2 separate regions of the Homo sapiens genome follow, and region 1 is linked to region 2. Evidence: fine-mapped expression QTL. Tissue or cell type: visceral fat. Region 2 holds a variant in brackets; the other region holds the start of a gene. All regions are shown on one strand. Distances are between the middles of the regions.

Region 1 (5,743 bases), 700 kb before region 2:
CTGAATCTGAGGAGCCTGGCATGCCTTGCGAGGGAATTTGAACTTTATCACACAGGCAATGGGGAAAATCAGAGGAAGATTTAACCAGGGAAATTACATGATCAAAAAAACAAAATTTATAGCCAGGTGCGGTGGCTCATGCCTGTAATCCCAGCACTTTCAGAGGCCAAGGCAGGTGGATCACTTGAAGTCAGGAGTTCCAGACCAGCCTGAGCAACACGGTGAAACCCCGTCTCTACAGAAAATACAAAAATTAGCTGGGCGTGGTGGCACATGCCTGTAGTCCCAGCTACTCCCGAGGCTGAGATGGGAGGATTGCTTGAGTGCAGCAGGTCAAGGCTGCAGTGAGCCAAGATCACACCACTGCATTCCAGTCTGAGTGACAGAGCAAGACCCTGTCTCAAAAAAGAAGGAAAGAAGGAAGGAAGGAAGGAAGGAAGGAAGGAAGGAAGGAAGGAAGGAAGGAAGGAGAAAGAAAGAAAGAAAGAAAGAAAGAAAAAGAAAGAAAGAAAGAAAGAAAGAAAGAAAGAAAGAAAGAAGGAAGGAGAAAGAAAGAAGGAAGGAAGGAAGGAAAGAAAGAAAGAAGGAAGGAAAGAAAGAAAGAAATTATACGATCGCATGTAAGTTATATAATCCCAGTTCTGCCTCGTTGGGCAAGTCAATCTCTGAGCATTGTTAGTGTCTTCATCTATAAAATGCGGATAATAGTGGTACCTACCTCATGGGGTTGAATTGAGGAGTAAATGATTGAGGAGTAAATGAACTAATGTTCGTAAAGCAATTTGCACAGAGACTGGCACATAATAAGGGCTCCATAAATTTTAGCCATAATTACCAGACATGTTTCTTAGAACGGTAACCTTGCTGGCAGCTCTGAATATAAACTGTAGTGAGGTAAAGACTGATGGAAGGAGATCCAATTAAGATGATACTGCACCTTTTTTTTTTTTTGACAGGGTGTTATTCTGTCACCCAGGCTGGAGCACAGTGGCATGATCTTGGCTCACTGCAACCTCCACCTCTTGGGTTCAAGCGACTCTCCCACCTCAGCCTCCCAAGTAGCTGGGACTACAGGTGCGTGCCCCACACCAGGCTAATTTTTCTATTTTTAGCAGAGATGGGTTTCACCATGTTGGCCAGGCTGGTCTCAAACTCCTGACCTCAAGTGATCCGCCTGCCTCGACCTCCCAAAGTGCTGATATTACAGGCGTCAGCCACTGCACCCGGCTGATCCTACAATTTAAATGCAGTTATAAATAGGTCTTGAACTGGGATTTGGATGTAGAAAGTTACGGAGATGAAGAAGTAATGGGTAATTACCTCTAAGCTGCTGCTTGGAGCTTGGGAGACTGGGTAGATCAGGACTACCATAAGTCAAATTCAGAGATAAGGGTAGCCAGAGGATAGGGGTGCGGGTGCAGGAACAGATAATGAGTTTGGACCTGTTGAATGAGAAGTGAAGCCGTTGGAGATGTGAACCTGGAGAATATCGGTGTTGAAGGGAAAGCCAGAAGAGCCAGTGGAGGAAACTGATTGGTAAGTGAGACCTCACTGTCAGTGGGAACTGCATATGGGGGGATGAAGGCGGGTGGAGGGAGGAGGAAGGGGGTGAGGAGGAACACCACCGTGGGCTAACCATTTGTTTATGTTACACAAGCCCCCCACCCAACTCTCCAACGTGCATACATCCTATTTTCTAGTCAGTTCCTTGCTTCTTGCTTCTTGGTCTCCTGCATCTTTAAGAGAATAATTTTTTCCCTTTTGCCGTCTCCTAAATGAAGGAGGGAAAGGGCTAGCACCTCTCAATCTGGTCACCTACACGACTCTGAATCACAAGGGAGACAATGGAAAGGGGGAAAGGGCGAAAAACGATTCTTAAGAAAAGAAAGAGTCCGCGACGACTTCTAATAATTAAAGTTCCACCTCGTTATATCCTGCCACGCCGCTCTCCTGCCGCCGTATCGGGCTCCTGGCCGCGAAGCAGGACGGGAGATGTAGTCCTCAAGAGTGACCAGGGTGGCACGACTGCAGAACTCGGTTTCCCGACTGGCTTTCGAGGCGCGTGCGCAGATGGCTGCCCCGGCGAGTGGTAAACAGAGACGTCAGGAGGGGGCTGCTGCTTGGAGCAAAACAAAAGGGAAACCCGGGGGGCGGGGGGTGGGGGGGGTTGATAGGGGAATCGGTGCGGGAATAAGGGAGGCCGCAGCCGCGGGGACCCGGACCCTAGTAAGAGTGGCGAGAAGGGAAGAGGCGGGGGAAGGGGGAGTCAGGGGAGGGGCAAGTGACGCGGGGGAGCGGGGCGTGGGGGAGGGCAGCAATCCGGGTGGAGGAAATTTGGGAGGAGTGTCCGGGGGGCAGCAACTTAAAAGGGGGAGGGAACTGCGGCTAAGGAGACGTTCGGTGATGGGAGCGCAATATATGAGGGGATACAGTGCCTCAGGTTTAAAAGAGCAGGAAGCTGAGTGAGAGGTTGCAGAAAAAGTGTCTTCGCTCGGCAGAGGTTACAGGTGGCATCTCAGAAAGAGCTTTGAGGCTACAGGCTGTAGTCGGGAAGGGGATCGGAGAACTGTGTGAAGGGACAGCTTAGGGACTAGCGTCCTGGGACTAGGGGGAAGTTCGCGACTTTCTGAAGACTGGCAGGAATGTGCCTCCTGGCCCTCGATGCTTCCCCCCTGAGGGGAGGCATCGTGAGGGACTGTGGCAGGCTTCACTGAACGCTGAGCCGGGGAGGTCCAACTCCACGTATGGATCCGGGGAATGAGAATTCAGCCACAGAGGCTGCCGCGATCATAGACCTAGATCCCGACTTCGAACCCCAGAGCCGTCCCCGCTCCTGCACCTGGCCCCTTCCCCGACCAGAGATCGCTAACCAGCCGTCCGAGCCGCCCGAGGTGGAGCCAGATCTGGGGGAAAAGGTACACACGGAGGGGCGCTCAGAGCCGATCCTGTTGCCCTCTCGGCTCCCAGAGCCGGCCGGGGGCCCCCAGCCCGGAATCCTGGGGGCTGTAACAGGTCCTCGGAAGGGAGGCTCCCGCCGGAATGCCTGGGGAAATCAGTCATATGCAGAACTCATCAGCCAGGCCATTGAAAGCGCCCCGGAGAAGCGACTGACACTTGCCCAGATCTACGAGTGGATGGTCCGTACTGTACCCTACTTCAAGGACAAGGGTGACAGCAACAGCTCAGCAGGATGGAAGGTAATTATGACCCTCTTACCTTCTTCCCAACACCATCTACCCCCTGGACCCCCTAGCCTCCCTTACTTCTACTCTGGGGCCCCTTTTACTACCTCCCACCCCCACCCCCTTTGGGAAGCCCAGAGATCCACCTTCAATCTCCAGTTAGACAAACATTTACTTAGTACATAGTATATGCCACACTCGGTGCTTGATGCTGAAGGATCACAGATGAATAAGACACTGTCCCTGCCCTGGAGAAAATTGAATTCTCTGCTCACTGCTCAATATTCGCAGCACTTTGGCTTGGGCTGCCCCAAACACTTATTCCCACAGAGAAGTCTTTATCCTATGTACAGCAGGAACTGTGTGGATTCCCCACATGAACCTACCCTTCCCTCCTCCCCCACCTCCCACCCCAACACCTTTTCTCCCATTCCTGTGGGATTACTTGGATTCCCTGCTTGCCTCCCAGTACCTCAGTGTAGTGGTACTGTTCTAGCACTGCTCTACCCAGGAGGAGGGAGTGCAGTGGCAAAGGGTAAAAACAATAATATTCATGGGGAAAGGTAGCTGATCTCATGCACTAAGAAGAAAAAGGGCTGTGAGCTGCCACTTGGCTCAGCTTACCCTGTGCTGCCAAGAAACTCTCCCTTGTAAGGGGCTATCCAAGTTTTGGGGGGAAGTCATCCTTTACTGTTAAGGAATATTAGTCATGAAGAAGGAGGTAGGGCTCTGACTTTAGAGCACAAAGTTGGGAGTTCTCTTGGCCTTCTGTGAAGAAACTGTGAGAGAATATCTCAAAGGATACTCTGAAAAACTTGTCCTGAGAAAATATGGGGCTGTAATCACAAAATTGGGGAGCCTCAAGCCCTATTGCTGGCTTGTACCTCTCTAGGTGGTGAGGTCAGCATATAACCAAGTACAGAAGGTTGGATGAGCAGAGGAACTTCCCCTAGGTATAGGAGACTGAGGGATCAGATCTGTGCTATCCCTAGGGGCTGGGCAGAACAGAAGATAGGACAGCTGACTGAGACCCTTGGCACTATTTCTGGGTAGACTGCCACGCCACAGTCTCAGCTCATAAAAAGCTCCCCTCCTTGGACCCAGCCTACACAGCTGTTTTTCTTTTCCCTTAGGTTCATTTTCCAGGGTAGAGGAAATAACAAGTTGTTAGTTATATTGTGGGAGTATAGTCCGTCCTTATAATCTACACTTCTGTGGGGCTTTAGAGTTTACAAAGTAGTTTTTAAAGTTTTTATTTTATTAATCTTTACAGCAATTCTGAGATTCCACATTTTACACATTAGGAAACTAGGTACCAAAAGGTTAGGAAATTCACCTAATAACAGCAGGGTGAGGACTTGAACTCAGGTCTAACTATAAATCATATTCTCTAAAAAGAGCCTGGCTTGCTCTAATTGGAATGAGGGCAAAGTCAAATCAGGCTGAGCCTGGGACTTCAAGGCCCCCCCACCCCTCTCTGAGGGGAAGTCTCATGCCTGAACTGGCCTCCCTGATGATATGCCAAGGTTACTCCCACCCCACCAGGGGGCGGCACTCACTTAGAACAAGAAAGTTTAGATTAGGTGGCTTAGGGAGCAATTAGCAGTCACCCCCACCACCCTGCCCTCCAACATGTAAGAGTTATGGGCTTTTGGGAAACTGACCTCTCCAATTAAGAGTCTGTGTACCACTTGCTAGTTCCAAGGCCTAAAGAAGAGGAGACAAACGGGCCTTGTGGCTATTAAGTAGTAGGGAAAGGAATGGATCTTCTCAAGTAGATCCAGAATTAGAGGATAAAAAGAGGAGAAATCATAGTGCCAGGTCATGGTCATTGTGGTCCTTAGTTACTATGAGGTGAGGCCGGATGGACAAGTGCCACTCCTTGAAGGAACATCAGCACAGTTGAAATGCCATTACCTCAGGGTCCCAGGAACACAAGGAGTTCTTTGGCTAAAGAACCCTGGAACAAGAAGCATCATTCCCCAGGCAAAGGTGCTCCTTATCTTAAGAGCACCAGTCAGAGAAACAAGTAGTTTCTGACCGTCCCATGTACTCAGCCTCCTAGTTGCTCTAAGCACTTCTGGGCTCCTCCTGAATTTCTAAACTAAAGACCTCCAAGTGGGAGGTCAAATGCCCCCAAGGTTGAAGAGTTTATGCACAAATTCCTGAGAAATGGGGGAAAGGCACTGGGAAGGAGGTAGGGAAAAGAAGGCAGGTTTCGGGAAGGGGGGTGGCCAGGGGAGGGCCAAACCCCTTGTGTAACTAGCCTGCCCCGCGGCAATCAGTAAATATAAGCTGCACTGGGGGCTGAAGAAGCTGCCAATCTCAGCTCCCTGGGCCACTGGAAAGCATCGTTTCCCTAGTAGAATGTCACCAGTGAGGGAGGAAGGGAAAACATACAGCTTCCAATACCCAAGGCACTGAAGAGCTGGCAGAGCCTCAAGGGGAGCCTCACCATTGTCAACCCAGGGGCAACCCACCAATCAGGTACAAATATTGATTATGTACTGTGAGCTTGAGTAGGTATAGAATATGTGCTGTGAGCTTGGTGCTCTGGGAGG
Region 2 (7,780 bases):
AGGCTCTGGGCTGGCACCCATGGAATGAGCCACCAGCCCTGCCATGGGGCCAAGGTGGCCCTACAGCCTTAGATTCCAAGCCAGCCTCCAGAGCCCCAGACTCCAGGCTGACACATGCAGACATCACCTGCAGACCAGTCCCTACAGCCCCAGACTTCAGGCCTGGACATGTGGACCCAGCTTCCAGATCCTCCTCAGTGTCAGGACAACCCCTGTGACCCTCGACCTGGTCTGCTTCAATGATAGGCCGTCTTCTGTAGTTTCAGACTTCAGGCTGGCACCCACAGACCTAGTCTCTGTACCCACTCCAGCTCCAGGCTGACCCCTGTGACCTCAAGCACCAGGCCAGAACCTACAAAGCCAGCTTCCAGGCCAGCCCCCAAGGATTAAAGGCTCCAGGCTTGCCCAGTGCCACACTAGCACCTTTGGCCTCAGACCCCAGGCTGGCCCTCTCAGACTCAGGCTCCAGGCCCATGCCAGGCGCCAGACAGGCTAAGAGGAAGTCTGACCCACATGGCCTCGGGCTTCAGGCCCACGCCAGGGCAAGACTGGCCCCAATAGCCAGGTTGGTCCCCATGGCACCAGGACCCAGGCCCAAATCCATGAACTCAGGTTCCAGCTCCACCATACCTGCTCACCAAGCCAGCTTTCCCAAGAAATCCAGCAGCAAGTCTATCCATGCACCATGCCAGATGGTCTTCCCAGAATCTCTGGATGGACTGAACCGTGAAGGGCTTTCCCAGCCAGAGCCAGTCATCAAGCACTGGAGCAAGTCCCCACTTCTTTTTTGGTTTTTCTTTTTCCTTTTTTTTTTTTTTTTCCTAATGGAGCTATTGTTGTTTATTCCTAACCGCAGCTATTGTTGCTCCGGTTGGAGTGCAATGGCACAATCTCAGCTCACTATAACCTCCGCCTCCCGGGTTCCAGTGATTCTCCTGCTTCAGACTCCTGAGTAGCTGGGACTACAGGCGCCCACCACCACGCCCAGCTAACTTTTTGTATTTTTAGTAGAGACGGGGTTTCACCATGTTGGCCAGGCTGGTCCCGAGCTCCTGACCTCAAGTGATCCACCCACCTCTGCCTCCCAAAGTGCTGGGATTACAGGCATGAACCACCGCGCCTGGCCCAAGTCCCTACTTCTTTAAATGCACAGAAGCCGATGTACAGCCACAAAGGTCACAATCAATCAGGGAAACATGACACTACCAAAGGAACAAAGTAAAGCTTCACTGATCAACCCTAAAGAAGAGAGATTTAGAAACTTTCTAAGAAGGAATTAAAAATAATCTTCCTAAAGTAGTTCACTGCATTACAAGGAATGCTAGAGGGAATTCTTCAAGCTGAGAGAAAACGATCTGGTTTTTGAGTCTGTTTGTTATTTGGGTTTTGTTTTTTGTATGTTTCTTTGTTTGTTTTGAGACAGGATCTCACTCTGTCACCTGGACTGGAGTGCAGTGGTGTGATCGTGGCTCACTGCAACCTCGACTTCCCAGGCTCAAGTAAACCTCCTACATGAGCCTCCCAAGAAGCTGGGACTGCAGGCATGCACTGCCATGCCCAGCTAATTTTTTTGTTTGTTTCTATTTTGTGTGGAGACAGTGTTTCACTATGTTGCCCAGGCTGGTCTCCAACTCCTGAGCTCAAGTGATCAGCCTGCCTCAGCCTCCCAAAGTGCTGGGACTACACGCACGAGCCATCGCACCTGGCCAAGAAAAGGATGTTAATTGGTAATAAGAAAATATGAAAGAAGAAAATTTATGAGTAAAATAAGTACATGTTCAAACCCAGAATACTCATTGTAATGACGATGTATAAATCACTTATATCTTTAGTATGAAGGTTAAAAGACAAAACTATTTGTGAAAGTATAGCTACAAAAATGTGTTAAGGGATATGGAATTTAAAAAAGATGTAAATAGTGACATCAAAAACATAAAATATACGGGGAGTTAAGGAGCATAATTGTAGTTTTTGTGTGTAATCAAAGTTAAGTTGTTATCAGCTCAGAATAGTCTGTTATAACCATAAGATATTTTATGTAAGCCTCATGGTATTCATAAAACAGAAATCTATAGTAGATACACGAAAGATAAAAAGTGAAGAATCAATTGTGAATGGGAGTTCACTCATGATTTGGCGCTCTGTTTTTCTGTTATTGGTGTATAAGAATGCTTGTGATTTTTGTACATTGATTTTGTATCCTGAGACTGCTGAAGTTGCTTATCAGCTTAAGGAGATTTTGGGCTGAGACAATGGGGTTTTCTAGATATACAATCATGTCGTCTGCAAACAGGGACAATTTGGCTTCCTCTTTTCCTAATTGAATACCCTTTATTTCCTTCTCTTGCCTAATTGTCCTGACCAGAACTTCCAACACTATGTTGAATAGGAGTGGTGAGAGAAGGCATCCCTGTCTTGTGCCAGTTTTCAAAGGGAATGCTTCCAGTTTTTGCCCATTCAGTATGATATTGGCTGTGGGTTTGTCATAGATAGCTCTTATTATTTTGAGATACGTCCCATCAATACCTAATTTATTGAGAGTTTTTAGCATGAAGCCTTGTTGAATTTTGTCAAAGGCCTTTCTGCATCTATTGAGATAATCATGTGGTTTTTGTCTTTGGTTCTGTTTATATGCTGTATTACATTTATTGATTTGTGTATATTGAACCAACCTTGCATCCCAGGGATGAAGCCCACTTGATCATGTTGGATAAGCTTTTTGATGTGCTGCTGGATTCAGTTTGCCAGTATTTTATTGAGGATTTTTGCATCAATGTTCATCAAGGATATTGGTCTAAAATTCTCTTTTTTGGTTGTGTCTCTGCCAGGCTTTCGTATCAGGATGATGCTGGCCTCATAAAATGAGTTAGGGAGGATTCCCTCTTTTTCTATTGATTGGAATCATATCAGAAGGAATGGTACCAGTTCCTCCTTGTACCTCTGGTAGAATTCGGCTGTGAATCCATCTGGACCTGCACTGTTTTTGGTTGGTAAGCTATTGATTATTGCCACAATTTCAGATCCTGTTATTGGTCTATTCAGAGATTCAACTTCTTCCTGGTTTAGTCTTGGGAGAGTGTATGTGTCGAGGAATTTATCCATTTCTTCTAGATTTTCTAGTTTATTTGTGTAGAGGTGTTTGTAGTATTCCCTGATGGTAGTTTGTATTTCTGTGAGATTGGTGGTGATATCCCCTTTATCATTTTTTATTGTGTCTATTTGATTCTTCTCTCTTTTTTTCTTTATTAGTCTTGCTAGAAGTCTATCAATTTTGTTGATCCTTTCAAAAAATCAGCTCCTGGATTCATTAACTTTTTGAAGGGTTTTTTTTGTCTCTATTTCCTTCAGTTCTACTCTGATTTTAGTTATTTCTTGCCTTCTGCTAGCTTTTGAATGTGTTTGCTCTTGCTTCTCTAGTTCTTTTAATTGTGATGTTAGGGTGTCAATTTTGGATATTTCCTGCTTTCTCTTGTGGGCATTTAGTGCTATAAATTTCCCTCTACACACTGCTTTGAATGTGTCCCAGAGATTCTGGTATGTTGTGTCTTTGTTCTGGTTGGTTTCAAAGAACATCTTTATTTCTGCCTTCATTTCATTATGTACCCAGTAGTCATTCAGGAGCAG[G/C]TTGTTCAGTTTCCATGTAGTTGAGCGGTTTTGAGTGAGTTTCTTAATCCTGAGTTCTAGTTTGATTGCATTGTGGTCTGAGAGACAGTTTGTTATAATTTCTGTTCTTTTACATTTGCTGAGGAGAGCTTTACTTCCAACTATGTGGTCAATTTTGGAATAGGTGTGGTGTGGTGCTGAAAAAAATATATATTCTGTTGATTTGGGGTGGAGAGTTCTGTAGATGTCTATTAGGTCCGCTTGGTGCAGAGCTGAGTTCAATTCCTGGGTATCCTTGTTAACTTTCTGTCTCGTTGACCTGTCTAATGTTGAAAGTGGGGTGTTAAAGTCTTGCATTATTATTGTGTGGGAGTCTAAGTCTCTTTGTAGGTCACTAAGGACTTGCTTTATGAATCTGTGTGCTCCTGTATTGGGTGCATATATATTTAGGATAGTTAGCTCTTCTTGTTGAATTGATCCCTTTACCATTATGTAATGGCCTTCTTTGTCTCTTTTGATCTTTGTTGGTTTAAAGTCTGTTTGATCAGAGACTAGGATTGCAATCCCTGCCTTTTTTTGTTTTCCATTTGCTTGGTAGATCTTCCTCCATCCTTTTATTTTGAGCCTATGTGTGTCTCTGCATGTGAGATGGGTTTCCTGAATACAGCACACTGATGGGTCTTGACTCTTTATCCAATTTGCCAGTCTGTGTCCTTTAATTGGAGCATTAAGTCCATTTACATTTAAAGTTAATATTGTTATGTGTGAATTTGGTCCTGTCATTATGATGTTAGCTGGTTATTTTGCTCATTAGTTGATGCAGTTTCTTCCTAGTCTCGATGGTCTTTATATTTTGGCATGATGTTGCAGTGGCTGGTACCGGTTGTGCCTTTCCATGTTTAGTGCTTCCTTCAGGAGCTCTTTTAGGACAGGCCTGGTGGTGACAAAATCTCTCAGCATTTGCTTGTCTGTAAAGGATTTTATTTCTCCTTCACTTATGAAGCTTAGTTTGGCTGGATATGAAATTCTGGGTTGAAAATTCTTTTCTTTAAGAATGTTGAATATTGGCCCCCTCTCTCCTGGCTTGTAGAGTTTCTGCCGAGAGATCCGCTGTTAGTCTGATGGGCTTCCCTTTGTGGGTAACCCGACCTTTCTGTCTGGCTGCCCTTAACATCTTTTCCTTCATTTCAACTTTGGTGAATCTGACAATTATGTGTCTTGGAGTTGCTCTTCTCGAGGAGTATCTTTGTGGTGTTCTCTGTATTTCCTGAATCTGAATGTTGGCCTGCCTTGCTAGATCGGAGAAGTTCTCCTGGATAATATCCTGCAGAGTGTTTTCCAACTTGGTTCCATTCTCCCCGTCACTTTCAGGTACACCAATCAGACGTAGATTTGGTCTTTTCATATAGTCCCATATTTCTTGGAGGCTTTGTTCATTTCTTTTTATTCTTTTTTCTCTAAACTTCCCTTCTCACTTCATTTCATTCATTTCATCTTCCATCCCTGTTACCCTTTCTTCCAGTTGATCGCATCGGCTCCTGAGGCTTCTGCATTCTTCACGTAGTTCTTGAGCCTTGGCTTTCAGCTCCATGAGCTACTTTAAGCACTTCTCTGAATTGGTTATTCTAGTTATACATTCATCTAAATTTTTTTCAAAGTTTTCAACTTCTTTGCCTTTGGTTTGAATTTCCTCCTGTAGCTCAGAGTAGTTTGATCATCTGAAGCCTTCTTTTCTCAACTCGTCAAAGTCATTCTCCATCCAGCTGTGTTCCATTGCTGGTGAGGAACTGCATTCCTTTGGAGGAGGAGAGGTGCTCTGCTTTTTAGAGTTTCCAGTTTTTCTGCTCTGTTTTTTCCCCATCTTTGTGGTTTTTCAAAGAGAATAAAATACTTAGGAATCCAACTTACAAGGGACGTGAAGGACTTCTTCAAGGAGAACTACAAACCACTGCTCAATGAAATAAAAGAGGATACAAACAAATGGAAGAACATTCCATGCTCATGGGTAGGAAGAATCAATGTCATGAAAATGGCCATACTGCCCAAGGTAATTTATAGATTCAATGCCATCCCCATCAAGCTACCAATGACTTTCTTCACAGAATTGGAAAAATCTACTTTAAAGTTCATATGGAACCAAAAAAGAGCCCGCATCGCCAAGTCAATCCTAAGCCAAAAGAACAAAGCCGGGGGCATCAACCTACCTGACTTCAAACTATACTACAAGGCTACTGTAACCAAAACAGCATGGTACTGGTACCAAAACAGAGATATAGATCAATGGGACAGAACAGAGCCCTCAGAAATAACGCCGCACATCTACAACTATGTGATCTTTGACAAACCTGAGAAAAGCAAGCAATGGGGAAAGGATTCCCTATTTAATAAATGGTGCTGGGAAAACTGGATAGCCATATGTAGAAAGCTGAAACTGGATCCCTTCCTTACGCCTTATACAAAAATCAATTCAAGATGGATTAAAGACTTAAATGTTAGACCTAAAACCATAAAAACCCCAGAAGAAATGCTAGGCATTACCATTCAGGCATAGGCATGGGCAAGGACTTCATGTCTAAAACACCAAAAGCAATGGCAACAAAAGCCAAAATTGACAAATGGGATCTAATTAATCTAAAGAGCTTCTGCACAGCAATAGAAAATACCATCAGAGCGAACAGGCAACCTACAAAATGGGAGAAAATTTTCGTAACCTACTTATCTGACAAAGGGCTAATATCCAGAATCTACAATGAACTCAAACAAATTTACAAGAGAAAAACAAACAACCCCATCAAAAAGTGGGCAAAGGATAGGAACAGACACTTCTCAAAAGAAGACATTTAAGCAGCCAAAAGACACATGAAAAAATGCTCATCATCACTGGCCATCAGAGAAAAGCAAATCAAAACCACAGTGAGATACCATCTCACACCAGTTAGAATGACAATCATTAAAAAGTCAGGAAACAACAGGTGCTGGAGAGGATGTGGAGAAATAGGAACACTTTTACACTGTTGGTGGGACTGTAAACTAGTTCAACCATTGTGGAAGTCAGTGTGGCGTTTCCTCAGGGATCTAGAACTAGAAATACCATTTGACCCAGCCATCCCATTACTGGGTATATACCCAAAGGATTATAAATCTTGCTGCTATAAAGACACATGCACACGTATGTTTATTGCAGCACCATTCACAATAGCAAAGACTTGGAACCAACCCAAATGTCCAACAATGATAGACTGGATTAAGAAAATTTGGCACATATACACCACGGGAATACTATGCAGCCATAAAAAATGATGAGTTCATGTCCTTTGTAGGGACATGGATGAAATTGGAAATCATCATTCTCAGCAAACAATCTCAAGGACAAAAAACCAAACACCGCATGTTCTCACTCATAGATGGGAATTGAACAATGAGAACACATGGACACAGGAAGGGGAACATCACACTCTGGGGACTGTTGTGGGGTGGGGGGAGGGGGGAGGGATAGCATTAGGAGATATACCTAATGCTAAATGACGAGTTAATGGGTGCAGCACACCAGCATGGCACATGTATACATATGTAACAAGCCTGCACATTGTGCACATGTACCCTAAAACTTAAAGTATAATAAAAAAAGATCAATCCTTCTCAAACTCATCCAATAAACTGAAAAATTAAGAATACTTCCAAACTCATTTTACAAGGCCAGCATTACCCTAATTCCAAAGCCAGACGAGGACACTACAAGAAAATTATAGGCCCATATGCCTGATGAACATAGAAGCAAAAATCCTCAACAAAGTACTAGCAAATCAAATTTCATAGCACATTAATTTTTTGTGTGTTTTTCTGCTGTTTAATTAAAGGATTGCTCAGCATGACCTAGTGCCTATGGGATGTGCATTGAACTCAGTGCTGCCCTGTCACAGCAGAAAGCAAAACTGGTCAGAAGTCGGCTGATGCCTGCCCACAGAGGGAGCATTTAGACCAGCCCTAGCCAGAGGCGATTTATACACCGCAGAGGTCAGAACTTGGGTTATGGGAAGCCTCACCACTGCAGGATCTGGGTTTCTAAATAAACTTGAGAGGTGGTCTAGGATACAAGGACTGCAACTCATAGTGCTGTGCTGGGCTCAGAGTAAGAGAACGTAGGGAGCCCATGACCTAGTGAGACACCAGGCAAGGT

Alleles and levels. Alleles are on the strand shown, and positions count from the first base shown. SD is a standard deviation of normalised expression in the study named.
In carriers of allele G in region 2, the expression in visceral fat of the gene that starts at base 2,067 in region 1 tends to be lower than with C alone (small effect, 0.32 SD a copy in GTEx).

The links. PIP is the estimated chance that this variant, and not a neighbour inherited with it, causes the effect.
Region 1: it holds the start of FOXO4, and the variant in region 2 is fine-mapped to the expression of FOXO4 in visceral fat (GTEx, PIP 0.94).

What each region holds. Positions count from the first base shown.
Region 1 is chrX:71,093,785-71,099,527 of GRCh38, forward strand. FOXO4 (forkhead box O4) reads left to right here and starts at 2,067. Exons shown (of 3, transcript NM_005938.4): 1 at 2,067-3,197. The coding sequence starts at 2,745. RefSeq lists an enhancer at 4,535-4,829.
Region 2 is chrX:71,796,357-71,804,136 of GRCh38, forward strand. No RefSeq gene overlaps it. Among named protein-coding and RNA genes, the nearest start is that of CXorf49B, 37 kb to the left of the region's middle. The variant G/C (reference allele first, on the strand shown) is at 3,625.